2 linked regions of the Homo sapiens genome follow. The protein of the gene in region 2 interacts with the protein of the main gene of each other region in a biochemical or structural test. Each region holds a gene or a part of one and is shown on either strand. Other genes may lie near its edges. The genes, in order: DAO and DAOA.

The links.
Region 1: the proteins of DAOA (region 2) and DAO form a complex in vitro, tested with the Homo sapiens proteins (one study listed by BioGRID).

What each region holds. Positions count from the first base shown.
Region 1 is NC_000012.12:108,870,303-108,886,450, reverse strand, and holds the start of DAO (D-amino-acid oxidase), read right to left. Parts: upstream 6,360-16,148; 5' UTR 6,227-6,359; intron 6,142-6,226; exon of another isoform or gene 6,060-6,141; intron 1,454-6,059; 5' UTR 1,445-1,453; coding exon 1,251-1,444; intron 1-1,250. UniProt on the Homo sapiens protein: Catalyzes the oxidative deamination of D-amino acids with broad substrate specificity. Required to catabolize D-amino acids synthesized endogenously, of gastrointestinal bacterial origin or obtained from the diet, and to use these as nutrients.
Region 2 is NC_000013.11:105,453,095-105,469,845, reverse strand, and holds the start of DAOA (D-amino acid oxidase regulator), read right to left. Parts: upstream 3,802-16,751; 5' UTR 3,786-3,801; exon of another isoform or gene 3,631-3,785; 5' UTR 3,558-3,630; coding exon 3,514-3,557; exon of another isoform or gene 3,426-3,513; intron 2,840-3,425; exon of another isoform or gene 2,794-2,839; coding exon 2,705-2,793; intron 1-2,704. UniProt on the Homo sapiens protein: May suppress DAO (D-amino acid oxidase) and SOD1 activity and promote their degradation. Has conversely also been suggested to function as a DAO activator. May stimulate the degradation of DDO (D-aspartate oxidase). May play a role in mitochondrial fission.

The sequences.
Region 1 (16,148 bases), on a different chromosome or scaffold from region 2:
GGTGTTCCATTTGCTGAACCATCTGGCAGTTTCTAAACTACCATAATGACCTTTGCAATTTATTTGATAAATCTGTGCATCCATCCACCCACTTAGATGTTCACCCACTTAGAAGTTTTCTAGATTCAGCTGGGTGCAAGGGCTCACACCTGTAATCCCAGCACTTTGGGAGGCCAAGGAGGGCAGATCACTTGAGCCCAGGAGTTCAAGACCAGCCCGGGTAACATAGTGAGACCCTATCTCTATTTAAAAAGATAAAATTTGGCAAGGCATGATGGCTCATGCCTGTAATTCCAGCACTTTGGGAGGCCAAGGAGGGCAGATCACTTGAGCCCAGGAGTTCAAGACCAGCCCGGGCAACATAGTGAGACCCTATCTCTATTTAAAAAGATAAAATTTGGCAAGGCATGATGGCTCATGCCTGTAATCCCAGCACTTTGGGAGGTCAAGGTGGGCAGATCACTTGAGGTCAGGAGTTCGAGACCAGTCTGGCCAACATGAAACTCCATCTCTACTAAAAATACAAAAATTAGCCAGGCGTGGTGGCAGATGCCTGTAATCCCAGTTACTTGGGAAGCTGAGGCAGGAGAATCGCTTGAACCTGGGAGGCAGAGGATGCAGTGAGCCAGGATCACGCCATTGCACTCCAGTCTGGGCGACAAGAGTGAAACACAATCTCAAAAAATAAATAAAAATGTATAAATTAAAACAGAGGAAGTTTTCCAGATTCACCAATCATGTGGTATTGACAGGCACCCAGTTTAGGGAAGACGAGACAAAGCCTCCTAGTATCTGGCACAGAGCAAGGGGCTTAATATTTATGAATCTTTTCTTTATTTTTTTCTTTTTGAAACAGAGTCTCACTCTGTCACGAGTGCAGTGGCGGAATCTCAGCTCACTGCCACCTTCACCTCCTAGGCTCAAATGGTTTTCCTGCCTCAGCCTCCCGAGTAGCTGGGATTACAGGTGTGCGCCACCATGCCCGGCTAATTTTTTGTATTTTTGGTAGAGATGGGGTTTCACCACGTTGCCCAGGCTGATCTGGAACTCCTGGCCTCAAGTGATCCTCCCACCTCGACCTCCCAAAGTGCTAGGATTAAAGGCGTGAACCACCACGCCTGGCATTTTCTTTATTTTATGCTAGATCAGAGCTTCCACAAGGGGCTTGCTCTTGGTGATGGGAACCCTGACTCCCTCTGCAGACTTAGGTCCATGGGCACCCCAGGCTACCCTATGTGACCCTCACTCACGCCTCCTGTGGGTTGTTGGGGTCAGAAAGGTAGGGCTGCCAGAGGCCGGCAGCCACGTCGGTGGTGGTGAGTGGGGTGAAGCGGTCCGCGTAGACCTTTATGTCCAGTGGCTGCAGGACTGAGTGGTAGCGCTCATGGATGCAGAGGGCGGTGGACAGCCCGATGACTCCTGCTCCAATCACCACCACACGCATTGCAGCAGCCTGTGGGAAGGAAGGGTTGAGGCACAACATCATCACCATCATCTCCATCATCCTTAGCGCCATTGCCACCATCCACTGAAGGCTTAGAAGGTGCCAGACACCACCAAGCCCTTTTTATATTTGACCTTCCCGATGACCCCTAGGAGGAAGGAATATCATTGTTCCCGTTTTGCAAATGGAAACACTGAGGTATGGAGAAGTGACCGAGACTTGGCCACAGTCACACGGCTGGTGAATGATGCAACTTTCTCTGGGGAGCGTCCCCAGACACCCAGTTTCTGGGCTGGGAATAGAAAAGACCCAGCAGAGGGCACGACCAACTGTAGGCTGGGTAGGCCGGTGGTTAGTGCGATGGGCTCTGGCTTCAGGACTCAGCTCTGCCACCTACTGGCCGTTAACTTTGGGCAAGATGCTTCAACCTCTAATAACCTATGCTTGAGGGGATGGATGGGAAATTGAACAAGATGCCAAACGTAACAAATTTAACAAGCTGCCTGATGCAAAAGAAGTAATATACTGACATTTGTGGAGCACCTACTGTGAGCCAGCTGGCCCCGGCACTAAGTGCTTCACAAGCATCCATTCATCCAAGTCTCCCAACACTGTCATGAGGTAGGGGCTGCTGTTATCAGTCCCGTCTTACAGAGGAGGAAACTGTGGTTCAGAGAGGTGATGTGACTTACCTGAAGTCACACAGCCAGTTAAATGGTACAGCTGTGACTTAATTTCAATTTGAGTAAACTCAACACACGCTTAATGCACACCTACCATGTGCCAGGCTGGCAGCTAGCAAATGCAGCTATGAGCATGACAGACGCAGTGTCTGGCCTCAGAACTTGGTCTTCCAGCACAGAACTCCACCTGCCTTGGGGCACAGGGCTGATTGGGCCCTGAGAAGTTTAGAAGGCCTACCAGCTTTTAACCTTGAAGCTACTTAAGCCCGCACAGCAGGGAAATATTCTGCAGGCTCCTGCTGAGGCAGAACAAGAGAATTATTTGTGCCCAGAAGAGCCAAATTCAACTTTCCCTCATCTTCACTCACAACTCTCCTCCCGCAGACCTCAGCTCCTGGCAACTCGGGCCTGTGGCCCTGGACAGCGGGACATTCTTAATATGGCCTAGTTTTATAAAGGAGGGAAAACGGCTCCAGCCCACAAGAACTGGACTCTGTTGGGGTTTCAGAAGCCAAGTTGGAGATAGAACCAACAAACAGAAAGGTATCGTTCCTCTAGGCAATTCTCCTTCCAGCTTCGAGCCCGAGCTTGGATACTGGGGCTTAGGGGACAGCCCCTCTCAGGGACCCTTGGTCTTCTCTCTTCCCTCTTCCCCCATACTTTGCCTCTGGAGACACAAGCTCTTCATCTGCAAAACAGGGTTAATCCCAATCTCACAGGGTCATTTTAAGGATTAAATAAGAAGTTTAGCAAAAGTTCTTGGTACCACGCCTGGCACAGAGTAGGCCCTCAACACACAGCAGCCTCCTTCCTGTCTCCTAGCATTTTGAAAAATCACATAGAACAAAGACATTGCAGGAACAAAAGGAGAGAGGGAGGACCAGCTGCAGTGGCTTACGCCTGTAATCCCAATACCTCGGGAGGCCGAGGCGGGTGGATCACGAGGTCAGGACTTCAAGACCAGTCTGGCCAAGATGGTGAAACCCCATCTCTACTGAAAACTACAAAAATTAGCCAGGCGCGGTGGCAGGCGCCTGTAATCCCAGCTACTCGGGAGGCTGAGGCAGGAGAATCGCTTGAACCTGGGCAGCAGAGGTTGCAGCGAGTCGAGTTCGCACCACTGCATTCCAGTCTGGGCAACAGAGCGAAATTCTGCCTCAAAAAAAAAAAGAGGAGAAGAGAAAGGCAGAGTCAGACCTGGCTTCACTTCTGCCTTGCTGTGCGACCTTGGCTAAGTTAATTCCCCTCTCTGGGCTTTTTGACTGTCTGCATAATTTCCGGAGAGCTGACCACTCTTTTTCTTTTTTTTAAGAGACAAGGTCTCACTCTGTCACCCAGGCTGGAGTGCAGTGGCACAATCATAGCTCACTGCCACCTCCAATTCCTAGGCTCAAGCAATCCTCCCCCCTCAGCCTCCCAAAGCGCTGGGCTTTCAGGTGTGTGCCACTGCACCCGCCCGCTTGACCATTTTTATATGTTAACAATGAGAAGGCAGAGGAATAAAGGGCTTTCTGTATTTTTCCTAATTCTCCATGAAGAATCTAAGAGACAGTATGGCCCAGGCTGAGAGTCAGACAGACCCAGGTTCGCAGCCTGACTTGGGCACACACCAGCCATGTAACCCTGGGCAAGTTGCTCAACTTGACTGAGTGAGGGTGACCAACCTCCCCAGCTTGCCCAGGGCTGAGGGTCCTCCCAGGATGCAGACTTTCAGACTAAAAGTCAGTGCATCAGAGTCCCAGGCAAACCAGGATGAGTTGGTTAATCCTAATCGAACCTCAGTTTCCTCATCTATAAACTTTATTTTTTCGAGACAGAGTTTCACTCTTGTCGCCCAGGCTGGAGTGCAATGGTACAATCTTGGCTCACTGCAGACTCTGCCTCCCGGGTTCAGGTGATTCTCCTGCCTCAGCCTCCTGAGTAGCTGGGATTACAGGCATGCACCAACATGCCTGGCTAATTTTTGTATTTTTAGTAGAGACAAGGTTTCACCATGTTGGCCAGGCTGGTCTCAAACTTCTGACCTCAGGTGATTTGCTGGCCTCAGACTCTCAAAGTGCTAGGATTACAGGCGTGAGCCACCATGCCCGACCTCATCTATAAACTTTTATGAGAGCTGACAAAGCTCCTTGCCTTATTGTCTCCTCACTGGAATATCAGCTCCTGGACACCCAGGTGGTGAGAGGCAGAGCCCAGGCCAGCCTGACTCATAAGCCTAGGTGCTTAAATGCCATGCTTGCCAGTAAATCACATGGTTTGAAAAATCTGAGAATCAAGCCGGTAAATAGGAACAGCTGAAGCTTCAGAGTCCTGCATTTCAAACATAAAATATAATATAAAATAAGATAAAATAAAATAAAATAAAATGCCTGTAGGAATTTTTAGAGTGTTGGTAGGAATAGAATGGAAAATCAAAAAGGCCGGGCACAGTGGCTCACGTCTTTAATTCCAGCACTTTGGGAGGTCGAGGCTGGCAGATCACTTGAGGTCGGGAGTTCAAGACCAGCCTGGCCAATATGGTGAAACCCTGTCTCTACAAAAATACAAAAAAATTAGCTTGGCATGGTGGTGCACGCCTGAAATTCCAGCTACTCGGGAGGCCGAGGCAGGAGAATCCCTTGAACCTGGGAGGTGGAGATTGCAGTGGGCAGAAATCATGCCATTGCACTCCAGCCCAGGTGACAAGAGTGAAACTCTGTCAAAAAAAAAAAAAAAAAAAAAATTTAAAAGGAAAAAAGTGTGAGTCCTAAGTCAATTATCTTTTTTTAAAAAAATTCAAGATATGAGTCAAAGTTGACACTGATTATAGCAACGTGTGTGTGTGTGTGTGTGTGTGTGTGTGTGTGTGTTTTAAAATACAAAATAAATGCATGAGGTCCTCATGACAAGCCAGAGACAGATTGTCAGATGTGGCAGATCCAGCCTTAGGTAAAATCATTCATGCGTGTAGGTAATGAGCTTTTGGACTTAAACGCACCCAGCTCAGTTATTCGGTTGGACATTTTCGTGTTGTTGCTGATGTTTTTATTAGTGTTGCCGTTCTCCTCTGTTTTACATCATTACTTCAACCCAGCAAGCTTGGAGTATGTATCCCAGAAGATGCAAACAGCTGGGATTATTATATTTGTGTGTGTGTGTGTGTGTGTGTGTGTGTGTGTGTGATTAGAATGTCTGTGTAAGTGTGGAGCAGGAAGGGAACCAATGTATTTTGGTCTCTGCCACTTGCCAGACACCTGTAGATGCAGTACCGACATAATCCTCTCAATCCTCTCAACTGCTCTAGGAAGTAGGGAAGGTTACCGCCCTCATTCTGGAGGCTGGGACTGAGGTTTAGGGAGGAGAAGTCACCCACCCAAGGTTACGCAGTCAGTATGGGACAGCATTCGGACCTAGACCCAGTTCTATCGGCGCTTTCTGCACTGCTCCAAAAAAATATTTAGGCAGTTGGCATGCAGTTGCCACTTGATGCTTTCTGCTTGTCTTTCAGTCTTGCATTTATCTGCCTAGGACCTCCCTTGTCCCCTAGAAGGCAATCTGAGACAGCTGATGCCTTTGATTGCTATGTGCCCATAGCAAAGAATATGAAAGACTTCTTTTTAAAAAAAAAAATCAGTAAGCCAGAGATGAGGCATTTGAATGAACATAATTAGTTCTCCCTGGTTGCACCACACGGCTACTTCTCATGAAGTTATTTGCAGAGTTTATCCTTGAAATGGAACAGAAGCTATAAAAGTTTGAGAACCAGCCTACCAACTCCCCCACCAAAAATAATAATAACTACCATTTGAGTACTTGCTATGTGCCTAGATCTGCTCTAAGCACTTTACATGCACCACCTCTTTTAACACTCAGACTCACGCTGTAAGAGGGGAGTTATGATCCCCATGTTCCAGGTGAAGAAACTGAGGCTTGGGGAGGGAAAAATCACTTACCTATGGTCTCTCTGCTGGATGTTTGAGAGGCTGGATCTCTCCTTTCCTGTCACCTGCCTTAGGCTGTAATGTTGAGCCCTGTCTTTGACATTGGGAGGACATGAAATCCTTTGCCTCTCCCCTCTCCCAACCCCTGTCCCCAGCTCAAAGGTGCATCTGCCACTCACCGGAAGTACCAAACTGCTGGAGAGACCAGACAACTGCAGTGCGGGGACACAGGATGCTATTTCCTGAGGGGAAGCTCCTGATTCTGGAGCGTCTTGTTTCCAGCCCTCTGTCCGCCAGCCCGGACTGGAGTGCAGGGTCAAAGTCTGGAGCTATGGACAGGGCACGGCTTGAGGGGTGGGGCTCGGCACTGCACTGCCCACAGAGACTGGACCCAGGCCCGGCCGGGAGACCTCGCTCCCAGTCCCTGAAAAGTTGCCTGACTTTTCTGGCTGATCTCAAGCCCCTGTGGACAGGCCTTGGGGGAAGGAGGGAGGGCAGGCATTCTTGGAGGGTTGATGAGCACAAGAAGGTCTGTCTCTCTGGCCAGCTGGAGAGGATCCCCTTTCTTCCTTCTTCCTGCTGCCACCCTGGGGGAGGGTCAGGACGTTCCATGGGGCACTGTAGGCCTGGCCTGCGGTGGGGGTGGTCAGCCTGGCAGCCCCTGAGGGGAAAGGAGAGGCACAGGACAGGGGCTCCCTGGGCCAGCCCGATGCCATTCCAGGACGCTGGGGAGATGAGGCCAAGGAGAGACTGGAGGTGACGCCTGTGTGGGCCATGAGGATGCGTGGCTCTTTGCTCCCGTATCCCAGAGACGCAAGCAGCAGGACTCCAGGCCCTTCCTCTGCCAGGGATAAACATGGAGCTGTGATTTTTAGAGCCCAGAGATCTGCAGGCACCTCACTGTACAGATGGGAAGACTGAGGCCTGAGAGAGAGGGACCAACCAGCCCTGAGGGAGGCATTCTTTGGGTCAGCTTTAGCAATCCAGCCTCTAACACCTGCCTTTAGTATCATCAAATAAAAAGACGAAGATGAAATAAGAAAATGCATGCAAAATACTCACTGCATAGTATTTTTTCCTTTTTTAAAAGAGGGTCGGCTGGGCACAGTGCCTCACACCTGTAATTCTGACACTTTGGGAGGCCATGGTGGGTGGATCACCTGAGGTCAGGAGTTCGAGACCAGCCTGGCCAACATGGCGAAACCCCGTCTCTACTAAAATTACAAAAAATCAGCCAGGAGTGGTGGGGTGTGCCTGTAATCCTGGCTACACAGGAGGCTGAGGCAGGAGAATTGCTTGAACCTGGTGGGTGGAGGTAGCAGTGAGCCAAGATGGCACCACTGCACACTCCAGCCTGGGCTACAGAGCGATACTCTGTCTAAAAAAAAAAAAGAAAACAAAAAAAAAGAAAAAGAAAAGATAACAGACAGGGTCAGGCCAGGCGCAGTGGCTCTTGCCTGTAATCGCAGCACTTTGGGAGGCCGAGGTGGATGGATCACTTGAGGTTAGGCGTTTGAGACCAGCCTGGCTAACATGTTGGTGAAACCCTATCTCTACTAAAAATACAAAAATTAGCCGGCCGTGGTGGCACATGTCCGTAATCTCAGCTACTCGGGAGGCTGAGGCAAGAGAATCACTTGAACTGGGAGGCGGAGCTTGCAGTGAACCAAGATCAAGCCACTGCACTCTAGCCTGGGTGACAGAGTGAGACCCAGTCTCAAAAAACAAAAAAAAAAAAAAAAAAAAGAGAGAGAGAGAGAGAGAGGATCTCACTCTGTCACCCAGGCCAGAGTGCAGTGGCGCCTTGAACTCCTGCGCTCAAGCAATCCTTCTGCTTCAGCCTAGCCAGGACTACAGATGCATGCCATAACACCCAGCCAAATTACTTACTTTTTGTAAAGACAGGGTCTTGCTATTTTGCCCAAGCTGGTCTCAAACTCCTGGCCTCAAGCAATCATCCCACCCCGACCTCCCAAAGGGTTGGGATTACAGGCATAAGCCACCACGCTATGACATATTTTTTTTTCTTCAATAATAAAAAATGGATAGGGTGAAACCCACTTTTTACTTTATATCTAACTAGTTTGAATTTTAATACAATAGTCATGTATCACTTATATAACATATGGCCCTTATAAAGTTCCCTGTGTGTTTAATTCATCATGGGAGCACTTGAACATTCATAAAAGTTAGTCCAATATCTTCATGCTCCCCACTGCCATCACAGCAATAATTTACGTTTTGTAAATTGCGGTGTACCAATTCTAAATACCTGGATTTTCTTTTTTTCTTTTTTATTTTTTTCTGAGACAGAGTCTCACTCTGTCGCCCAGGCTGGAGTGCAGTGGTGCCATCTCAACTCACTGCAACATCTGCCTCCCAGATTCAAGCAATTCTCCTGCCTCAGACTCCCGAGTGGCTGGGTTTACAGGCACATACCACCTCACCTGGCTCATTGTTTTTCTATTTTTAGTAGAGACAGGGTTTCACCATGTTGGCCAGGCTGGTCTTGAACTCCTGACCTCAGGTGATCTGCCCACCTTGGCCTCCCAAAGTGGTGGGATTATAGGCGTGAGCCACCGCACCCTGCCTTACCCAGATTTTCTCTTTGAATCTCGAAACAGCCCTGTAAGGCAGGTGCTGTTATTATCATCCCCACTTCAGAGTTGAAATTCAGAAACTTGCTCCAGCATCCACTGAAGTTAAAGATGGCTATCCTAATATCTATCATGCCCACGCCTATATATATACCCAAGATAAATGAAAACACACATCAATCAAAAGGCTTCTGTAAGAATGTTCATAGCCCCTGTTAACTAAAAAAAAAAAAAAAAAAAAAATCACAAATGTGTAAATTCAGAGAGGAGAAGAAATCTTATTTCTTATAAGGGGTTATAGCCCACAAGGTGACCAGTCCATGGCCTGGGAAGTATGCCTCCTACCAAGAACAGAGACGGGCACTTTGAAGGAGGAGGGGTTGGGTTAGGAGCTTTGTGCTGAAGGGGTTGGCTGAATGATATATCCAGCAGGTTACAGGAGAAGCTATGAATATTTATGAAGGTGGCCCCAACACATGTGTATGAACAAATGTGCATGTAACATACAACCCATGTTCACTTTGGGGTGGAGACTTAACATTTAAATGTATTACAATTAGGCCAGCCATGGTGGCTCATGCCTATAATACTAGCACTTTTGGAGTCCAAGGTGGGTGGATCGCTTGAGCCCAGGAGTTTGAGACCAGCTTGGGCAACATGGCGAAACCCCTGTCTCTACAAAAAATACAAAAAGTAGCCGGGCGCAGTTGCGTGCACCTGTAGTCCCAGCTACTTGGGAGGCTGAGGTGGGAGGATTGCTTGAGCCCAGGAGGCAGAGGTTGCAGTGAGTTGTGATCGTGCCACTGCACTCCAGCCTGGGCAACAGAGTAAGACCCTATCTCAATCAATCAATTGATCAATCAATCAATCAATGTATTACAATTAGAACCTACACATCAAAATGTCTTTTCAGGAAATGCAGGCACATGAGGTTGCGGTTTCGTAACCCCACCAGAAGCAGTCCATAGTCAGTGATCTTTTTATTAGGAGAAAGTTACCAAACTCAGTCTCTTGTTCAATCAAAGCTGTAGTTGTTGTTATGACTGGAGGAACAGGGTGTCAGTTGGGTGTCTGTGTGCTAGATGAGTTGTAACTGTTTTAATATTGCTTCTTCTGAGGCCAGTGCTTGTTTCGCTGCTAGAGAAAAAGAAAAATCTTGTAACATAATTAGAACATAGTTTATTCCTTAAGAGTAGGGGCACCTGACTTAACCCTTGCCTGACATGGCCTTAGGCTGTGTTTATAATTTGGTATCTTATTGCCACAAAAAGTCTGTTCTGTCAGTCTTATAATCTCTCTCTCTTTTTTTTTTTTTTTTGAGACAGAGTCTCACTCTATTACCCATGCTGGAGTGCAGTGGAAAGATCATGACTCACTGCAGCCTCTGCTTCCTGGGCTCAAGCGATCCTCTCACCTCAGCCTCCCCAGTAGCTGGGACCACAGACACGCACCACCGTGCCTGGCTAATTATTTTATTTTATTTTATTTTATTTTGTAGAGACAGAGTTTCACCATGTTGCCCAGGCTGGTCTCGAACTTCTGGCCTCAAGTGATCTGCCTTCCTCAGTCTCCCAGGGGACTGGGATTACAGGTGTGAGTCACCATACTCAGCCCTCTATTTTAGCATTGATGCTGATCTTTTCTTGTATCTAAACCACAAAAGGAAGGAAGGGAGTGTAATGTGGTGTGCCTGACCTCCTGTCTCATCATGGCTGGAAACAAAGTTTTTAAAGTTTTTCTGGGGTTCCCTTTGCCAAGAAGGGTGTTCATTTAGTGGACCCTTAGGATTTTATTTTGAATTTACACCCCAAACTGGAAACAACCAAATATCTATGAGACAGAGGATGGATAAACAAATTGTGGTGTTTTCAGGAAACAAAACTCCCCCCTCCAAAAAAAAATTCACACAATGGAATATTATACAGCAATGAAAAGGGAAAATACTGTTATATATAGCAACCTGAATGAATCTCAGTCATTAGGTTAAGAAGAAGCAGCCAGACACTTAAGAGCTCATATTGCATACTTCCACTTTTATGAAATTCAAGAACATACAAAATTAATTGACAATAACAGGCTGTGAGAAGAGTGGTTACCTCTGGGGGAGATACTGACCAGCAAGAGGCATGAGAAAATTTCCTGGGATGCTGGAAACGTGCTCCTTAATCTGGGTAGTGGTTGCAGGAGTTTATGCATATGTAAAAATTCATCAAGCTGCATATTTAAAATTAAGATTGATGCACTTGACACAATTAGGGAAGAAAGAGAGAGAGAAAAGGAGAGAGGAAGTAAGGAATAAAGGAAGGAAGGAGGAGGGAGTGGAGGGGAGGAAAGGGAGGAAGAAAAATGAAAGAAGGAGAAAGCAGGCAGGCAAGGAGGGAAGAAGGAAAGAAGAAGAAAGAGGGTGAGACAAAGAAAAAAGGAAAGACAGACTGTGCTTATAGTCACACTGCCTGGAAGCAGAGGCCCAAATGTGAACTAGGTTAGGGTTGCCAGATCTAGGAAATAGATTCCAGGACACCATATGTGTGTGTGTGTGTGTGTGTGTGTGTGTGTGTGTGTGTGTGTGTGTGTATCTATATTTTTTTTTTTTTTGAGATAGGGTCTCGCTCTGTTGCCCAGGCTGGAGTGCAGTGGCGTGGTCTTGGCTCACTGCAAACTCCGCCTCCCTGGTTCAAGTGATTCTTGTGCCTCAGCCTCCCAAGTAGCTGGCATTATAGGCATGTGCCACTGCACCAGGCTAATTTTTTTATTTTTAGTATAGACATTGTTTGCCATGTTGGCCAGGCTGGTCTTGAACTCCTGATCCTCCCACTTTGGCCTCCCAAAGTGCTAGGATTACAGGCGTGGGCCACCTCCCCAGAACGCCCTGTATTTTACCTGGCGACCCTCACCCAGGTTGTGTCCAGAACTGGGGTACTCAGTCACTACACTATAGCTTTTAATTGAGAGCCAGAGAAGGACCCCAGGCATCAGTGACCAGGACTGGAGGTGGCCTGTGGCTTCAGAAAGTCCTGTACTGTGTACAAACAAGCATACTTAGAATTATTATTTAATTTTGGAAAATGAGCTTGGGGGACAACTATTGTTTTCGTGATATAATCTACAGAAAGTAAAGTTCCACAGTATCTTCTCGGCTATTGGAATAAGGAGAAAGGTACCCACTAGGAAGGGTGTAAGAATTTTATCTTTATTAAAAAGGAGAGTGAGTTTAAGAAAAAGCCAGGCACAGTGGCTCACGCCTGTAATCGCAGCACTTTGAGAGGCTGGGGCAGGAGGATCTCTTGAGCCCAGGCGTTTGATACCAGCCTGGGCAACATGATGAAACCCCATCTCTACAAAAAATTAGCCAAGCATGGTGGCACAGGCCTGTAGTCCCAGTTACTTGGGAGGCTGAGGTAGAAGGATTGATTAGCCTGGGTGGTTGAGGCGGCACTGAGCTGAGATCTTGCCATTGCACTCCAGCCTGGGTAACAGAGCAAGACCCTGTCTCAAAAGAAAAGAAAAGAGAAAGGTGAGAAACACTGATACGGTTGAAGCTGTCCATTTTACACTTAGGGAAATTTAAGTGCCCTGAGACAGCTCTGTGGGACCAAGGCCCTTTCCACTACCCTGAAGTCCTAAACTCACTGATCCTAGTAATGGGAGGCCCTAGACTTTCGAAAGCAACTTCTGTTTATTTGGCTGGAATTGTAGAAGTTAAGGGTCTTTTTGACCCCACTGGGTGGTTGATAAACAAAACGACCTCCTGGTAGTTCTGAAATACAGTCAGGCCAGGGCAAAAACATTTACCTGGAGAATGCTCTGCAGGAGTCAACCCTGGTGGGGCCAGGAAGTTACAGAATAACAGGTTAACTCCCACTCTCTTTCTCAGACAAAATTAGCTTTAATCACTTTTTCAAGTATTAAGCAGTATTTAAGGATTTCAAGTATTTATGCAGCAGGCATAAAGAAGAAAGTAAGAATCCCCTGCAATTAATCCCACCACCAGGAAATAGGGACCATTACTTTGGGCAAATATTTCCAAATGTGAACATAAACACGGGCAGGTGGCAAAAATAGTATCATGTGACATATGTTGGTTCCTCTGTTCACTTGTACCAATATGGCATACCCTGAGCCTCTTTCCACGACCACTATAGAACAGTGACGTACTTTTTATTTTTCTTTTAATTTATTGACAAAGTCTTGCTCTGTTGCCTAGGCTGAAGTGCAGTGGTGTGAACATAGCTCACTGAAGCCTCGAATTCCTGGGCTCAAACGATTCTCCTGCCTCAGCCTCCCAAGCAGCTGGGACTACAGGATGGCATCCTTTTTACACAGGATGCCAATGTACCTGGATGTAACATTTTTTTTTCTTTTTTGAGACAGGGCCTCACTCTATTGCCCAGGCTGGAGTACAGTGGCGCAATCACAGTTCACTGTAGTCTTGACCTCTAGGGCTCAAGTGATCCTCCCTCCTCAGCCTCCTGAGTAGTTAGAACTACAGGCATGCACCACCAACCTGGCTAATTTTTACTTTTTTTTTTTTTTGTAGCGACGGGGTCTCCCTATGTTGCCCAGACTGGTCTTGAACTCCTGGGCTCAAGCGATCCTCCCATGTTGGTCTCCCAAAATGCTGGGATTACAGGCGTGAGCCACCATGCCCAGCCAGATGTAACAATTTTTAAAGTCAGTCCGTAGGGTTGAATTTACCTGTCATTTCTAATTTGTCGACATTAAAAACATCCTAGATGTGTTTCTTGGCACACTTGCCTGATCGTTTCCATAAGGTCAGTTCCTAAAAATGGAATCATTGTGCCAGGGTTTGTACATTTAAAATATTGATCCATTTTGCCAGACTGCCATCCAGCAGGGCTCTAGCAATTTACACATTTAAGGAGGCACTTACCCTCATATGCCCACTTTGTACTTACATGGCCCTGAGAGTGACAGCCTCCTTAAATTTTGCATCCTTCCTTCTCCCCATCTTACTCCAAGCCCTGCTAAGGAGATGGCAAAGTTTCATGTCCACTGGGCTTTGTATTTATTTCTTTGTAAAGTGCCTATTCTTTTTTCCCCATTTTTCTATTGAATTGTGTTGGTTATTTTTCTTATTAATTTGAAATAACTCTTTTTTTTTTTTTTTTTTTTTGAGATGGAGTCTCACTCTGTCACCCAGGCTGGAGTGCAGTGGTGCGATCTCGGCTCACTGCAATCTCTGCTTCCCGGGTTCAAGCAATTCTCCTGCCTCAGCCTCCTGAGTAACTGGGATTACAGGCGCATGCCACCACACCCGGCTAATTTTTGTATTTTTAGTACAGATGGGGTTTCACCATATTGGCCAGGCTGGTCTTGAACTCCTGACCTCGTGATCTGCCTGCCTCGGCCTCCCAAAGTGCTGGGATTACAGGCGTGAGCCACTGTGCCCAGCCTTGAAAGAACTCTTTATATGTATGTGTATCATCCCTTTGTTGCAAATGTTTTCCCCAATTTGTCTGTCCTACAAAGGTTTGAAAATTTTTTTAGCTGTGGCTTGCATTTGTAATCCCAGCTACTCAGGAGGCTGAGGTGCAACTGCCCAATGGGTTATCCTTGCCCGCTGCCTAGACAGAGCCAATGTATCAAGTCAGGGGAACTGCAATAGTGAAAGAGTTTAGGATCATGGTTCAGGGTTTTTTTCTGTGGGTTTTTTGTTTTGTTTTGTTTTTGAGACCGAGTTTTGCTCTTGTCATACAGGCTGGAGTGCAGTGGAGTGATCTTGGCTCACTGCCACCTCTGTGTCCCGGGTTCAGGCGATTCTCCTGCCTCAGCCTCCTGAGTAGCTGGGATTACAGGCGCACACTACCACACCTGGCTAATTTTGTATTTTTAGTAGAGATGGGGTTTCACTATGTTGGCCATGGTTGGTCTCGAACCCTGACCTCAGGTGATCCGCCTGCCTTAGCCTCCCAAAGTGCTGGGATTACAGGCATGAGCCACTGCGCCTGGCTAAGGTTTTTAAGGGTAATTTGGTGGGTAGGGGGTCAGAAAGTAGGGGAGTGTTGATTGTTCAGGTTGGAGACAAAGTTATAGGAGTTGAAGCGGTCCTCTTATGCTGGGTCAGTTTCTGGGTGGGGACCACAGATCAGATGAGCCTGTTTATCCATTTGGGTAGTGCCAGCTGATCCATCGAGTGCGAGGTCTGCAAAATATGTCAAGCACTGATCTTAGGTTTTACAATGGTGATGTTATCTCCAGGAGCAATTTGGGAGATTCAGAATCTTGTAGGCTTCAGCTGCATGACTCCTAAACCATAATTTCTAATCTGGTAGCTATAATAATTTGTTAGTCCTGCAAAGGCAGTCTAGTCCCCAGGCAGGAAAGGGGTTTGTTTTGGAAAATGGGCTATTAACATCTTAGTTAAACTTTGACAAAGTTAAACTATAAACTAAATTCCTCCCAAAGTTAGTTTGGCCTACACCCAGGAATGAACACGGACAGCTTGGAGGTTAGAAGCAAGATGGAGTCAGTTAGGTCAGATCTCTTTCACTGTCATCGTTTTCTCAGTTATAATTTTTGCAAACGCAGTTTCAGAGGCAGGAGGATTGCTTGAGCCCAAGAGTTCAAGGTGGCAGTGAGCTATGATTGTACCAGCCTGGGAAAAAGAACAAGACTCTAACTCTAAAAAAACAAAAGCAAAACAAAAACTTTTTTGTAGTTAAATCTATTTCCTTTTTTTTTTCGTCCTTTATGATTTTTGCATTATCATTTCTTTATAGTGGTGTGTGGTTTTATAACATTTTTTTTTTTTGAGTCGGAGTTTCGCTCTTGTTGCCCAGGCTGGAGTGCAATGGTGCGATCTCGGCTCACTGCAACCTCCACCTCCCGACTTCAAGCAATTCTCCTGCCTCAGCCTCCTGAGGAGCTGGGATTACAGACATGCGCCACCATACCCAGCTAGTTTTTGTATTTTTAGTAGAGACGGGGTTTCTCCATGTTGGTCAGGCTGGTCTCAAACTCCTGACCTCAGGTGATCCACCCGCCTCAGCCTCCCAAAGTGCTGGGATTACAGGCGTGAGCCACCACGCCCAGCTTTATAACATACTTTTATATGGCTATAGTCATGTTTAGAAACCCTGCTTCATCTCTCTCCCTTGCTTCATATTAAAAATTACTCACACAGACTTTCTATAACTTTTGAAGGTTTTTTTTTTTTTTTTTTCTGAGAACGAGTCTCACTCTGTTGCCCAGGCTGGAGTGTGGGTGGTGTGATCTTGGCCCACTGCAACCTCTGCCTCCTGGGTTCTAGTAAATCTCCTGGCTCAGCCTCCTGAGTAGCTGGGACGATAGGCGCCCTCGACCATGCCCAGCTAATTTTTGTGTTTTTAGTAGAGGTGGGGTTTTGCTATATTGGTCACACTGATCTAGAACTCCTGACCTCAGGTGATCCACCCGCCTCGGCCTCCCAAAGTGCTGGGATTACAGGCGTGAGCCACCATGCCTGGCAACTTTTGAAGGTTTTTTAAACATTTAACTGACTCAT
Region 2 (16,751 bases):
TTGGAAATATGATGAAAGTAAATTAGACAATTGCTAGAAAAATATCCTTCAGTTGGTTCCCCACACATCACAAAATTCAGCTTGATACCATTTTCTTTTTCTTGACAAATTTAGGGCTTTTATTAGTGCTATGACAGAAAGAAGGAATGCTACCAAAAAGACCATTTGAATTTACTTTAATTATTTCAGAGTAGGGAAACGATAATTGGAAAGTAGTTTATAACCTTGAGTTTGTAAAATCTGTAAACTCTCACAACGATGTGAAGGCAGAGAAAGTATCAAACTCAGTCCCCTATAATAAGCTCATTACTTCATAAAATATATATCCCCTTCATCTATGTGTCAGAAATGTTTAAAATTTTCACCACTGGTACATTATTTTTGGGCCTTACATTTTTGTGGATTTGGTGAATACCTGAAAGAAATAAAATAGGATTGGATAATGTGAATTTCTTTTACACTCATTGTCATTATTAGAAAATAAAGCCCAAATAAAATATGACAGAGCAGAATTAGTTTTAATACAGGAAAAATTTGCAAGTTGAAGAGGAGAAAATGCAGCCAGGAACTAACGGTACACACCTAGGTGGTTAAGACAGTGTGGATGGTGATAAGAGAACATAAGGAAAATTCTGCCCTCCAGCTACTTTGAATTTAGTGTTCTGCCTAGTATGAATATTATTGAACCCTATGGTATGGTACTTAACTATCTAATGAGATGATAACTCTCTCCTACCTGTAGAAAATGTAGATGCCTTGTCTACTTCTGCTTATATACATGCTGAAACATACTGATGTCTGCTGTCTTCTTAATTTTACACTAATTTTTAAAGTAAAGATTGATTTGATAAAAAATATGCACTTGGAAAAATTATTCTGCTATTCCCACATTTCATGTTCATGTCTATTTACAGCTAACAAGACTAGCACGCAAATAGATATATGCTCCAAGATCTCGCTTCTTTTCATGTCTGGCTTCTCCCTGTTTACCCACAATTATTTTCATAATATTTTACTGTGATTCCACAAACCAGAGACAAATCTCTGAAGGGAATAGTGTTCCAAGGCATGGCCATCATTAGAAGACAATAAGCTTGTTTTCCTTCCAACATTCTTAGCTTTGTTGAAGGCTAAGTGGAAGAAATTAACATACTGCATGCCTTTCAATGAAAATTGTTTCTAATTATTTTGCTTCTCAAATTATTCCACCAGGCATTGATTAGACTTTTTAAATTCATTTCATATCTGTCACTCTCAGCTAACATTTGTAATTTTTTAATTGTTGTTAAAGAGAATCTATTAATTGAAATATAATTATCCTCTTTAATAAAAGTAAATAAAATTACTTGGGTAGCCAACATATTCAAGTAATCATCAATCTTGGTCAGAAATTAAAAGTAAGATGAGCATCTAAACTTGGCACTCAAAGACTGACCATCTGCACCTTTGAGGCAAAATAAAATTCAGTTTAGGAAAACCTTATGAAAATCAATGTTTTAATTATGCTATCAAGGGCTGTGGTAGGCAGAAACTTCTTTGCTCCACCCCCCAAAAATGTCCAGTTCTTAATCCTGAAAACCTGTGGAATCTTGTGTAACAAAGGGACTTCATAGATGTAATTAATGTTAACGACCGGGAGGTGGAGAGTGACCTCGGTTATCCTGGTGGGTCCAAGGTAGTCACAGGCATCTTTATAATCAGTGAAGGTCTCCCTGCTGTGCTTAGAGAGGGGGATGCTGGAAGAAGAGTGGTCAGAGAAGCAACATTGCTGACTCTAAAGACAGAGGGCAGGCCACGAGCCAAGGCATGCAGGAGGCCTCCAGAAGCTGGGGCAGGCAAGAGAATGGACTCAGCCCTGGAGCCTCCAGAAGGCATGCAGCCCTGCCCATTCCTTGCTTTTAGCCAGGTAAGATGTCTGTCAGCCTGATGAGAACTATGAAATAATGAATGTGCTTGTTTTTTTCACCACTAAATTTGTGCTTATTTGTTATAGCAGTGATAGAAAACTAAGACAAGGCTATATCTTGGCATGTCAGATTTTAAGTTATCTGCTATAGTGTAGAAAAGCCCAGAGAAGGAGCTGCAATTTGTCTCTTTGAAAAAAAAAAAAAAAAAAGGATCACCTTCTAGGGGATTAAACATTAATGGGCTGGGTGTTGTGGCTGACACCTGTAATCCTAGCACTTGGGGAGGCCGAGGCGCTGCTGCACTCCAGCCTGGGCAACATAGTGAGACCCTGTCTCCAGAAAAAAAAAAAAAAAAGAAAAAGAATTAAACGTTGACAGATTATTAAGTGAGGCACTGTGTGAGACCTAGCTTGGGTTTGCGCCTATAGATATTTAAAAGTTGATCCAGGTTTTCACTTGAAAGCAGAACTACTGCCTTAAATTCCCACTTCACAAAAATAAATCATGGATTGAGGGAAAAATTTACTTGTTTGCTTTATAAAAAGAGATATCGATCTCTTCATAAGTTATATATGTTTTACAAGGTTGCACTGTTTGAACTGTAAGTGTGAATGGTTGCTAACACTCCAGAAACCAAGAGGTACATTTTAACTGGAAAAATTTTCTTCCTGTATCTTACAAATTAATTGAAGTTTGTCTACGCTTGAAAATATGTCAAAAGTATTATGTAGCTTTACCACAGTTTTATCTAACTTCTAGAAGAATTTAAATTCATATAAAGATAAAGAGTAACATACCAATAGAGTTTAGAGAGTTTTCAGATTTGCTCAGAAGAATGCTCCTTTGAAAACCTATGAAGTAGATTTTACCCAATGTATATCTGGATCTAAAAATTAAAGAAAATATCAGTCGTGTTCAGATTCCTTTATACCCTGCAGAAGAGAGAAAGAATAAGCAACATCAATGGAGCATATAACATGTATGGTTTAGCACTTTCATATTTTTAATCTTAACTATTCAGCCAAATACGTCTTATTTTTTTATTTTTATAGATGAAGATATTGAGGTTTGCATTTTTTTTTTATAAATTGCTCAGTCATACAGTTGGTAAATAGCTGACAGGAGAGTTCACTCCAGGTCTTACTGGCTCTCAAACCTTTGCTTTTTAAAAATCTCCAAACTAGCGCCTCTCCCTTTTAACTGCAAAATAAGCACAAAGTTATCCCAGTTCTACACAGTGCTAAACAAATTCCTGTGAGCAAACAATTAGCACAGGCAGATGGAGTGAGGGGGAGGTGGTTTATAACAATGGAAAGCTGTCTGCCTGCTGTGGATTAAAGATTCAAACTCTTTGATCCTCCTCCCAGGGATAGGTGAGGGCCTATGTCTCCTCCTCATTAACATGAGTGATCCTTGGCTAGGTTCTCCTTTGACTGACAGAATATGGGAGAAAGTAAGGCTGAACCATATACTGGGCTCAGGCTTCCAACCCTGACATGTTCCACTTCCTGTCTCCAGGAACATTCACCCTGGGAGCTCTGTGCTGCCATGCAAATGTCACATTGCACTGAGGCCGCCATGCTGTAAAAAACCCCAAGCTACCTACCTGAAAAGCTGGAGAGAATCAGCACCCATCAGCTTTTCCAGCATTTTGGGTCCTCCCAGCTAAATCATCGGCATTGTGAAGCAGAGATGAGACCTCCTGCCATGCCCTTTCCAAATCCTGGACCAACAGAATCATCATATACACTAGTAAGCTTTTACTTTAAGCCACTAATTTGGGGTGTAGCTCTTTTGCAGCAAAAGATCATCAGAACACTGCCATGCAGGAGCTGATAAACTTGCTCACTGTTATGTATGTATCCAATGACTACTCACACACACATTACTTGCTTCACTCTACTTTCTGGCTTTCCATTCAGCAAATTTTAAGAAATGAAAATGTTATTCGTGGGAAATTAACTCAAGATCAATATTGTTGTAGTTAATCTCTTTGTAAATGGTAAAATATTAAATTATTGTGAGTCATTTTTATTTAAAGAAGTTTGGTTCTTTAAATGAAAGAAGTTTGGGTCTTTTGTGGATACTCTGCATATAGACATTCTAGACATGAAAGAATGTTGAAGACAAAGAATGTTGAAGAAATATAGACATGAAAGACTGTTGAAGTTTGGTTTTTTGTGGATACTCTGCATATAGACATTCTAGACTGGAGTGATACATCTTGTTCAGGTTTCTATGTTTTTAAAATGATAACTTGACACGCCTACCAATGCCAATTTTTAGGATATATATTTGTATATCTGTGTGAACTAAGGAAAATTCAGGAATGATTAAACCTACATATTTTGCCAGGAGAGACTGGATAATGTAAGTCTTTATATTTTTCACAACTTCAAGTTTATAGCATCCAAATGAGCAATTGCTGACATACCTAGGGGATTTCTCTGCAGGTTCAAGTCTGATCTGGCCTGAGGGCAACACTCTTACTGAGTGTGTTCCTAGGCACTCCTTGGCAGTTGGCTCCAGGCCACAATAAAGAGCCCTGATGATTCTCTGAGCAGGCCCAACTTCCATTCACATTCATGGGAATATGAGGATGACTTGTGATCTTCAGGACTTAGATAGACTCTTTCAGTTGGTGTAGGGTAAGCTCAGCTCATCTCTAGAGACTTCCCACAGTGGAGCTCATGCATGACTCTGTGCAGGTGGCACAGGACAGCCAGAGACAGGCACCTAAGGAGTGCACTACCAGCAGGTGGACTCTCCACTGAGGGAGGTAGACAAGGGAGAAAGCCAGGTGTCCACATGGAGCAGGCCTTACTCAGGGAGACTGAGATTTTGCTCTACACATCATAAAACGTGGAGGTCATTAATGGAATTTTTCACAGGACATGACTGCCATAGCCATGATAGGGTCCCTGGCTAATCTTTCAATTATGATAGCATCATAAGATAATTTTGAATATGAGGAGAGAAGAATAACTCTAGAACTGCAATATCCAATATGGTAACCCCTAGCAACCTAAGGCTACTTAAACTAATTAAAATTAAAACTTTAGTTCCTCAGTGCCACTAGCCATATTTCAAGTACTCAATAACCACACACACTTGGCTACCATGTTGGACAGCACTGACATAGACCATTTCCATTACTGCAGAAAGTCCTCCTATTTGACAGTCCACCTCTGGAACCAATCCGGAGTCTTTAGGGACCTAAAAGACTGAGGTGCTAAATCTCAGAGCAGTACTCTGCTTAATGCTTAGTTAAAAGACTTGCTAATCTATATAGTTGATCTAGAGAACTTTAAAGGCAGCTAGTTCGTAGCAACTATGTTGCTGGACCTTGAAACTGTATGTCAGGAACTTGGTGTTCTAGTGGTGACTTCTCTTTTATCTACCATGTTCACACTTTTCCTACCACTCATTTATCCATTCAGAAAGTATTTCAGAAGTCCCTATGATTTACCAGGTGCTATTTCAGACACTGAGGCACTGTGGGGAACAAAACAAACAAAGTCTCCTTTCTCAGGGATCTCACATTCCATGTGGTGATGCAGACTGTAAAAATTCACACACAGAAGATACTTTCATACAGTAGGAAGTTTTATGAAGAATATTTCAAAAGGGGTGTGGGGTGGGAGAGGTTGATGTTCAGGTGTTTGCTTGAGAATGAACTGTTCATACAAAGAATCAATAATTCATTTGTTCCACAAATATTTATTGAGTACCTGTTATTAGCAGGCTACTTTATTAGGTTGCCAGAGCAGGGTTTTCTTAGCACAATTAAAACACAATAACATTTGTTAGAAATTCAAAGACCCATGTCCACTCTTGCATAATGAATCAGAGTCTCGAGGTTATGGTCCAGAGACTGGTGTATTTAAAAATCACTGAAGTAATTTTAAGGTATAGCCAGAATAGAGAGGACACCGGCATTCTTCCTGAAACTCAACACACTAGACAATGAGAAATCATTAAAATGAAGTAAATATTTTGATTGAGATTGTTTTGGCTTCAAAATTAATAATAGCTTGGAGAGGAAAGAAGGTAAATTATAAAAGACAATTAAGAATCTCTTAAATGTATTTAGATAATAGTTACAGAGGGACAAAAATGAGTAGGATCTGTGATAACAGAAAGAATAAAAATAAACAAAAGGACTTAAAAAAGTAAGAATAAGAAAGAAGTCAACAGTAACCCAGAAATTTTCAACCTCATGTCTAAGAGAATGATGATGCTATTTAGCAATATATCCAAACCAAAAATACTACGAGAAGTAGGTTGTGTTCACTTGTGATGTTGTAAATTTATAATTACTTTTTCTTTATTTTGGATGCATGCTTTTCCTTTTTCTGAAGTTCTGAGACATACAAAAACAATAAAGAAAAACATGATTTTATGCCAGAAAATAAGATAGGAACAATTCCTCATGCTCAATATAATTTTAGCCTCCCACATAATCCAAAATATATGTGCAGCAAATTGTGGGAGTTTCGAAATTAGATCCAACTTCTTATTACAGTTAAAGATAAAAAGAAAACAAGGCTTTGTCTTTTTTAGGATCTTTTTTGGAACTTGCAGTATAAAAATACTCTTTCAAAAAACATAACTCAACATCAAAGTCCAATAAAACAGTAAACTGGACTAAATATATTCGTATATTAGCTTGACCTAAGTCTGGGAATTGAGCCAGACTTTTCAAATTATACTATCATTATTTACAGAAAAAGGAAATGTTAACTAACATTATTAAATAAAAGCACATATACACATGCATAACAGGAAACAAAATGAATGTTAATGTTAACAAATGTTGAAGATGTGTGTGTGTGTGTGTGTGTATGTGTGTGTATACAAAGCAGATAAGATATTCTCTTGAGCATGATTGGATTGGAAATAGTAGCTATGCCAGGGGAAATTTTATGCAATCCCCTTGGCTGTGGGCTACACATTTATTGTGTTATACAAATATGCCAAAAAAAATGCCATTTACACAGTTGCCTAAAACAAAATTGAAATTATACATTAGTGTTTAAAGTTTTTTTTTTTCTTTCGCCTCCTTTTCTTAATGAATGGCAGATAATGAAATTTAGGAGTTTGCAAAAACAAACGTAGTTTAAATTGTACCTTAGTTGTCTATGAAATACAAATACATTTTATATATTTATGGAAACATTTGTGTGTGTTCAGAAAGTCCATATTTTGCATTCAAGATTGACCCTGTTTTAAGTCATATTTCATTTGCTACACTCAAATTGACTAAAGGCAGATACTTTGGCATTCACTTTTTGATTCATTATTAAGGCATTATTTTGATTGATTCTGCTTAAGGTAGTTTTCCTGATCAGAGTAGACGTTTAGGCCACCTATCTAGACAAATATCCCACTTTCCTATCTGAAATATTTGATCTCTCCTTACCCATTCTAGGGTTTTGTGCATCTCTAAGATGATCATCTTGGTGTGGGGTCCTGATCTTCCCAGTGACTTAGCAGCACAGTAATTTGGCTGAAATGTTGATGAGTTCAGACAAGAAGAAGGTGATGATGACAAGAGAGCGTCACGGGGAAATTCTGCCCTGAGGAAGGAATAGTTTGAGGCTGGAGAGATGTGCTACCCCCGCCACTCTTTCTCAAATGGTATTTATTCTTGAAAGACAGTGTAAAGTGTCTGAAATTGCAGAAGCAAAGTGGTTGCTGTAGAAATACATACCATGACGTGCTTCAACTCGTTTCCTTAAAGGTTAAAGAAAGAAAAATGTGCATCTTGAAGAAAATTCCAAACCCTCATTGTGAGGAGTAATCCAATATTTCAATTTAGAAATTCAGAGGGTTTTAAATAAGAAGCAATTATTCTAGGCAAAAAGCAAATATAAATGCCAGCAGTCAAAAAACCAGTGAAAAGATATGATTAAAACTGAGATGTAAAAAATAGATATTTATCTGAAGTTCTTGACTTTTAAAGTCCACAGGCATTTTCCCTTAAGAAAAGAATAAAAACATTAAATGTTAAAGAAAAACATAAGAAATATTATAAAAAAGATAATTATTCAGAAAATATTAGTATTTTGTTACCAACACCAAAGACAAACAGAGTATTTTTCAATGACTGGAAGCCAGTTTAAGTGAGGAAAAAAAAAACACGTTATTATTACTGCTATTATCCATTATTTTTATTTTTACTTTTGGCAGTGTTATTTGCTAATCAGCTAACGCATGGTAGTGGACTTGATCTTTTATGTATTATAAAGGTTGTATCTTCTCATTTTAAGGGAATATTTTAACTACATTGTCCAATTGTACACTATAAATGCAGCAAGACCAGGTCAAGTGAAACTTCAGTGGGCGAGTCTCTTTCTTTTCTTGTGTGTAGGGCTCTCCCTCCCACCTGCTACCTTGACTTTTTAGATTCCCTGTTCCCCTGGTCTGTGCTTGTATAATATACAAGCTGTCCTTGACATAGCACGTTCCTCTTTTTTCCTTCATTATTTTTAAATGGTTATAATATACTCTTAAAAACAAATTTGAATATTACTAATAGATTCTAATATTATCTTACTCTCTGAAATTAAGTAGTGATGTATATTGTGTTAAACGCTTGTCTATGCTGATGCAACATATGGGCAGGTCTCTCTCTGGGCCTATATGTATTTGTTTCATATCGTTGTACACAGATTCATTCATTTCTTTAAATGGGTATATAATATTTCAGTGTATAAATTAATCACTCGTAAGTGGCTAGTAATTTAATTTGTTGCTACTTCCTCCCAAGATGAACAGTGCTTTAGTGAGCATCTAGCCATTTCTGTATCTGTCTACTTATTGATTTATGCATATATTCACCACCTTCTTCTTCCACAAATAGACTACACATCCTCTTCATGAGAGTCTACACAAAAATGTTACAAATAACATTTTTAACGCAATAGTTCCCTTAAGCTCACACTTGTAATGTTTCTGCCCAGACTTAAGCCAGCCAAATGTGTGGAAATAAATTCCATTTGTGTATTAAATATCAAAGATAGGGAACATTCATAACAAATGTAAACATAGCCAAGGATTCATTGAAACATTTCCACATACCATCTCTCCAAATCTGGTTTTAAAGAGATTGTAACATAATTTCAGGAATAAAGACCTTCTGGAATTGAGATTTATGGAAAAGAGATTATAGCTCCACAAGATTCTAGGGATGCAAAAGGTCTGGAGGAGCCTCCAGGCACAGGCACTTTGTTTCCATGCTGAAGATTCAATGTGGGTTCTGAAAATGCTGCTTTAGCAAGCACACATTTGTTCCACTGGTGTTGGATTTTCTATTGATTAATAGTTACCATTTTTTTCTTCTCTTAGGAAAGACAACCTGTAGGCACAGAAATCATTGCTCTGCTTACACTGAAATCTCCTGCTGACTTTGAGAGCTGAGCATTGGATTTTGATGGGAGAGTGAAACTTAGTGAAGAAATGATTTGAACCTTTGTTGATCTAATACTTCTGTGATACAGTTATCTAAACAGAATGAGTCTAAAGTCAGTATAAAGACCTGTGTCTCTCCATGTTTTGCTGCTTATAATTGCAGAGGAACATTTTGAGATAGAAAATTTTATCCCTCTTTCAAGTGACTTTTTATAAAACATAACCTTTTAAGAGAGGTCATTCTTTTGAAAAATTGTCTGAATACAAAAAAGTAACTGAACAGCAAGGGATTGTAGCCATAATGTTCTTGACCACTTTAGATTGACAAATAGTATCTCAAAATTGATCAGGTTCTGGAGAATCTATTGAGGTTGTATGGAGTAACCAAGTGATGGAAGAGGTTGGAAGTGAATAATTTTATGTGGTATTATGTGATTTTTTTTGGTGGGGGTAGTGTCTGGAGCTGAGCATGATGGAGCCTAGATGGGGCAGCCTTCTAATGCTCCCAGTATTTCGCAAATCATATGTCACGTCAAAATTGTAATGACAAAGCTCACAGCAGCTGCCTACGCCAGGTTTGGTGCCAGCTCTAATTAGAGCATTGATCATTTCTCTCCCCTTCATGAATGCACATGAGTGCACATTTTCATATATAAGGGCAAAGGACATTTCAAAGTTTGGATGGAATCTTTCCTACTTAGAAGTAATAAAAAACAATACTTTGAAATCTTACCAAATGTTAAACAAATAGCAACAATTTTTCCATTTGAAGATGTGTGTCTTAAGGTCTGTTGGATCTTTCAAATTTCTATTTTGGACATGGAAACTACAGATGAAATTTAACTTACTCAAAGTTACACAGAACTCCTGGCTGATCTCTTTTACTTAATTCTTCTAAAATCTAAAGTAAGAATAATTTTGAAATTTTATTGGTAATGCTTAAATAACAAAAGTTACTTTAATATGTTACATGTTTGAAGTTTCATTTATACTTAATATCTAATTTAACGCTTGTGAAAATATTATTCAGTATTTTTTTTTCTTTTCTAAAATGACTTGTTCAGGGCTCCTTTTGGGATTTTAAGTGAGAAAAACTCTATTTCATAATATTGTTACCATGCTCATCCAATAACACTTCATAGATGGTTAGCCATCTCTAAAATTAAATTTTGTAGTTGAGGAGCATTGAAAATATCACCTATATTTGGATTTCTGTTTAACACTTCAAAATGCATTTTATCATAATTTAAAATTTGATTTAAATACAAACCTCTTTATAGAAAACCTGATAAATGTAGTTTTATTTGTTTGCTTGCTTTTTTTTGCAGGGAGGGATATTCCCTTGATACCACTCTGTCTTTATGACTCATCGGTTATTTATAAATGTTATCATCGTTTTTCTGATTTTTAAATAAGTTTCAGAATTAATACATTTAACTGAATAAATCAACCAATAATGTCAAACTTAAAATGTGTTTGTAACAAGAGTCAGCACTTATAATGAAAAATATAATTAATTAAGAGGTTACAAAACTTATAAGCAGAGTTTACTCTGCTTACAGAAGGGCAAACATTTGTTATTTGATACAACATATTAAGTATTTATCCCATGCAATCACTGTCCTAGGCTTTGAGTTTATAGTGATGATCAAAACGATTTACAGGTTTCAAGAACCCTGCTCACATACAGCTTACAATCCTATGTGGGAAAATGATAATAGTGAAATAATTACATTAATTAATATATACTTGATTCAAATGTAAATAATTATTCTGAAGGAAAGACACCTACATCAAGAGAGCTGGCTTAAATTCGGGGATCAAGGAAGCCTTTCCAAATAATTGTTGATGGGATTGAAAGACAATTGTGGGATGAGATGACCACCTGGGCTTGGTATGGGGGAGATACAACTGTCAGTGGGAAAGCCCTGGAGATGGGGAAGAAGAACTTCTTCAATGGAGAGAAGTTCCTGAGTGAGGAGAAGGCAGGTGACCACAGTGTGAAGTGATGCTATAGAAGCCAACCACGTGGCTATGCAAGCAGAAGGAATTTATCCAAAAAGAAAGGGGGAGGCATTAGAGGGATTTAGTGTGGAGAGTGGTGGTGACAAGATCAGATTTGCAACTTGCAACTCTCTCTCAGGTTGCAGCATGGGGGATGATGGGATGAGCCCAGAGTGGACTGACGCATTTCCAGTAGTCCAGGAGAGTGGCATGTGGCATGAACTGTGTGAGGAAGGGGGAGCTGGGGGGAAGAAGTGGGGTAACAACACCCTATTTGTTGTTTTGCTTCTTACACTTTGAAAAATATTTCAAAGCAGGAATGCTATTCCAGACATTTAACACCTGGAACAGGAATAAGTACCAACCAAATATCGTGGGAGACTGACGAATCAGAATGAACATCAGCTCTGCATGGCAGTATGGTTTTAAAACACTTTCATGTCTATGTAAACAAAGTAAAAATGTTAAAAGATTATTTTACGCCTTTGGTTATCAGATAGTCAGACTTTTAGTAGTTTATATTTTATTGCAGTCTGATGAGGTCTGCTTTTAATAGTAGTTTTCTCTTCTTCCCCCAACCCCATTACATTAAAATGGCAAATGATACTTTTCCTTGTTAGTAAGCAAGGCCAAGTTAGGATTATCAGAAAGTCAATACCTAAACACAAAGAATAGTGCAGCCAAACCCGGAAAATATTGTCTGTTTTGCCAAGAGGAAGCATCTCACTGAGTATCTGGAAAGCTCATTGTTTCTCAATTATGGTTATTTTATTAGTTGCCATAACTCAGCTATAGTCATAATGTAACTGACCAGCACCGATGATGAAATCAATAACCACTACAACAGAGTAAATGCTGTTTGGGGTGCAAGAAACATCATTTTTATCTAAGTGAAAGTACATCTCATTTAAATGTATTTCAAGTTGACATTTTGTATATATTGTTAATAAACTTCAATTTTACTAAAATCTCTGCAATATCTAATCAATATACTGAATGATATGCTCTCCCCTTTTGTGCTCAAATAGGATCTGTTTATATTTTAGTTAAGAAATGCTATGCCATTTTATTATATTAGAAAAATATTTACTGGTAGGAATTTGGTTTAAACTCTCCCTGTTATTCAGCTGGGAAGTATATTACAAGTAAGTCTTTAAAGACTACAATTGGAGACCGGGCACGGTGGCTCATGCCTGTAATCCCAGCACTTTGGGAGGCCAAAGTGGGTGGATCAGGAGTTCGATACCAGCCTGGCCAACATGGTGAAAACCCCGTCTCTACTGAAAATACAAAAATTAGCCAGGTGAGGTTGCAGGCGCCTGTAATCCCAGCTACTCAGGAGGCTGAGGCAGGAGAATCCCTTGAACCTGGGAGGCAGAGTTTGCAGTGAGCTGAGATTGCACCATTGCACTCCAGCCTGGAGAACAAGAGCGAGATTTCGTCTCAAAATAAAAAAAAAAAAAAAAAGAAAAAAAAAGACTAAAATTGGAGAGTTTAACGTATCAAATTTAGGAGATAAATGGTAAATAATATGTTTGTATATGAAAATATTTTAATACAATATTTGAAATGAAGAAACTGAGATCACACAACTTTTTGAGCGTTGAGTTTATACATTTATTTTCTTTCTTTCTTTCTCTTTCTTTCTTTCTTTTTTTTTTTTTTTGAGATGGAGTCTCACTCTGTCACCCAGGCTGGAGTGCAGTGGCACAGTCTCAGCTCACTGCAACCTCTGTCTCCTAGGTTCGAGTGATTCTCCTGCCTCAGCCTCCCGAGTAGCTGGGACTACAGGTGTGTGCCACCACGCCTGGCTAGCTTTTTGTATTTTTTTAGTAGAGATAGGGTTTCACTGTGTTAGCCAGGATGGTCTTGATCTCCTGACCTCGTGATCTGCCCATCTCGGCCTCCCAAAGTGCTGGGACGTGAGCCACTGCGCCCAGCCTATTTTCTTTCTTTTACCTATATCATTTCATTTTTTTATTGATACGGAATATTTTACATATTTATGGAGTACATGTGATATTTTGTTACATGCATAGAAGGTGTAATTATCATCACGGTTTTGGGGATATATATCCCCTTCAGTATTTAGCATTTTTATGTTTTAAGAACATTTCACATTCTCTCTTCTCGCTACTTTGAAATATACAATACATTGTTGTTAACTATAGTCACTCTATTCTGCCATTGAACATTAGAACTTAAAATACTTTCCAGCCAGGTGTGGTGGCTCACACCTGTAATCCCAGCACTTTGGGAGGCCGAGGTGGGCGGGTCACCTGAGGTCAGGCGTTCAAAACCAGCCTGGCCAACATGGTGAAATGTTTGTATTTGTAAAACTACAAAAATCAGCTGGGCGTGGTGGTGGGCACCTGTAATCCTAACTACTCAGGAGGCTGAGGCAGGAGAATTGCTTGAACCTGGGAGGTGGATGTTGTAGTGAGCCCAGATTGGGTCATTGCACTCCAGCCTGGGTGACAAGAGCAAAAGTCTGTCTCAAAGAAAAAAAAAAAAAAAAAGAACTTATAGCTTCCAACTAACTCTATGTTTGCACCCATTGATCATCTTTTCTTCATTCCCCACTCTCAGCCATACACACTTCCCAGCCTCTGGCATCTATCATTCTACTGTCTACCTACATGAGATCAACATTTTTAATTCCCATGTATGAGTGATAACATGTGGTGTTTGTCTTTCTGTGTCTGGCTTATTTCACTTAACATAGTGACCTCCAGTTCCATTTATGTTGCTGCAAATGACATAATTTCAATGTTTTTGTGCACAATTAGTATTCCATTTTGCTTATCTATTTGTTAATTGATGGAGATATAGGTTGATGCTATATCTTTGCAATGGTGAATAGTGCTACAGTAAATATGCCAGTGCTGGTCTCCCTTTGGAACACCGATTTATTTTCCTTTGGATAAATACCTGGTAGTCGAATTTCTGGATCATATGGTACTTCTATTTTTAATTTTGCTCAGAAATCTCCATAGTATTTGTTCATAATGGCTGTACTAATTTACATTTCCACCAACAGTGTATAAAAGCTCCTTTTTCCCTGTACCCTCACCAGTATCTGTCATTTTTTTGTTTTTTTTAGTAATAGCCATTCTACTGGGGTAAGGTGATATCACATAGTGGTTTTGATTCACAATTCCCTGATAGTTAGTGATGTTGAGCATCTTTTTTATATACTTGGTGGTTATGCCATTTGTATGCCTTTTTTTGAGAAATGTCTACTCATGTCCTCTCATGTCCTTTGCCTACTTTTTAATAGGATTATTTGTGAGATTTGTGAGGTTGTTTTTTGTTTGTTTGTTTGTTTGTTTGTTTGTTTTCTTACAGTTGAGCTATTTGAGTCCCTTGTATTTTCTGGATATTAGTCACCTGTCAGATGAATAGCTTGCAAATATTTTCTCCCATTCAACAGGTTGTTTGGAGATTCTCTTTAAAATAGCTGCAACAAACAAACAAACAAACAAACCCGGCCAAGCACGGTGGCTCATGCCTGTAATCCCAGTACTTAGGGAGGCTGAGGCGGGCGGATCACGACGTCGGGAGATAGAGACCATCCTAGCTAACACAGTGAAACCCCATATCTACTAAAAATGCAAAAATATTAGCCTGGCGTGGTGGCGGGTGCCTGTAGTCCCAGCTACTCGGGAAGCTGAGGCAGGAGAATGGCGTGAACCCGGGAGGCGGAGCTTGCAGTGAGCCGAGATTGTGCCACTGCACTGCAGCCTGGGTGACAGAGCGAGACTCCATCCAAAAAAAAAAAAAAAAAAAAACCCTAGGAATAAATGTAACTAAGGAGGTAAAATATACCTACAAGTTGCACTAAAACACACTGACAAAAGAAATTGAAGAGGGTGCAAACAAATGGAAAGATATCCTATGCTCATGGATGAAGAGACTTAATATGATTAAAATGATCGTATCATCCGAAGCAATCCACACATTCAATGTAATCCCTATCGAAATAACATTATTTTTTCACAGAAAAAAATTTAAAAATCCTGAAGTTTGTATAGAACCAAAAAAGAGCGCAAATAGCCAAAACTATCCTGAGCAAAAAGGACAAAGCTTTAGGCATCACACTACCTAACTTCAAAATACAAGGCTATAGTAACAAAAATAGCATGGTGTTGGTATAAAAAGACACATAGAGACCAATGGAACAAAACAGAGAATCTAGAAATAAAACCCCATATTTACAGCTAGCTGATTTTTGACAAAAATGCCAAGAACATACATTGGGGAAAGGATATCCTCTTTAAAAAATGTTTGCAGGAAAATTGGATTTCCATATGCAGAAAAATGAAACTGGACCCCTACCTCTCACCATACACACAATTCAACTCAACATGGACTAAAGACTTAAACGTAAGACCTGAAGCTATAAAACCACTAGAAAAAAACAGGGAAGACACTTCAGGACTTTGTTCTAGGCAAACATTTTATGGGGGAGACCTCAAAAGCACAGAGGACAAAAACAAAAATAAATAAATGGGGCTGTATTAAACTACAAAGCTGCAGAGCAAAGGAAAGTATTTTCTTAATCCTTACTGGTTCTTAAAAAGTTTTGGATGTTGACCAACACATCTATTATGATAATTAAATGATTTGGACATGTCAAGCTTGTCAGGATATGCGCAGGTTGCCCCCTTTAGGAAGAGCACAGTGACTCTTTCTAATTCTATTTTTCTATTTCTTAAACATAGCTGACTATAAAATTGCAATGAAATTTGTGTATGAGCTAGGGAAGATGTTGGGTTGGGTTGAGATTCAAGGAAGGAGTTGGACTTTAAAATGGTGGAATCACCAGTAGAGGACAACACCGTGTACCAAAAACGTTCACAGGACAAGCCAGGTTGTACACCATGATATATGAGTTGTGATGCTGATGAAGGACATAGTAAGCTTCCAATAATGGGTCAAAAAAAAAAAAAAGAAAAAAAGAAAAGCATTAATATTAGGCAATGTATTTTGGTGCCTATAATTTATATTCTTATCAATACGGATAGCTCCATATTGATCTGTTTATATATATCTATTTGTTTATATCATTTGATTAAAATATGGCATTGACCATTGGAAAGGTACATCTCAAATTATCCTGGTTAAATGTGAAAGTATGAAGAGGCTGTGATTATAAGCATTTAAGTTTCAATCAAGTAGCAAGTGCTGTCAAGATGGTATATCCAATCAGATATTGTGAGGGACATGTGATTGCTATAGATTATTCTGCTGTCTTAAGAGATAGGCTGTGGATATTCAGATTGTGATTTTGGAGTTTAAGAGGGCAAAGTAAATTGCCTGCTGAACTCACAGTCATGTTTGAGAGAGACTGACAGGAAAAGGTAAAAATGAATCATCATCTACAACTGGCTGGATTGGACCTGACGGAATAAGATCCAGCAGGAA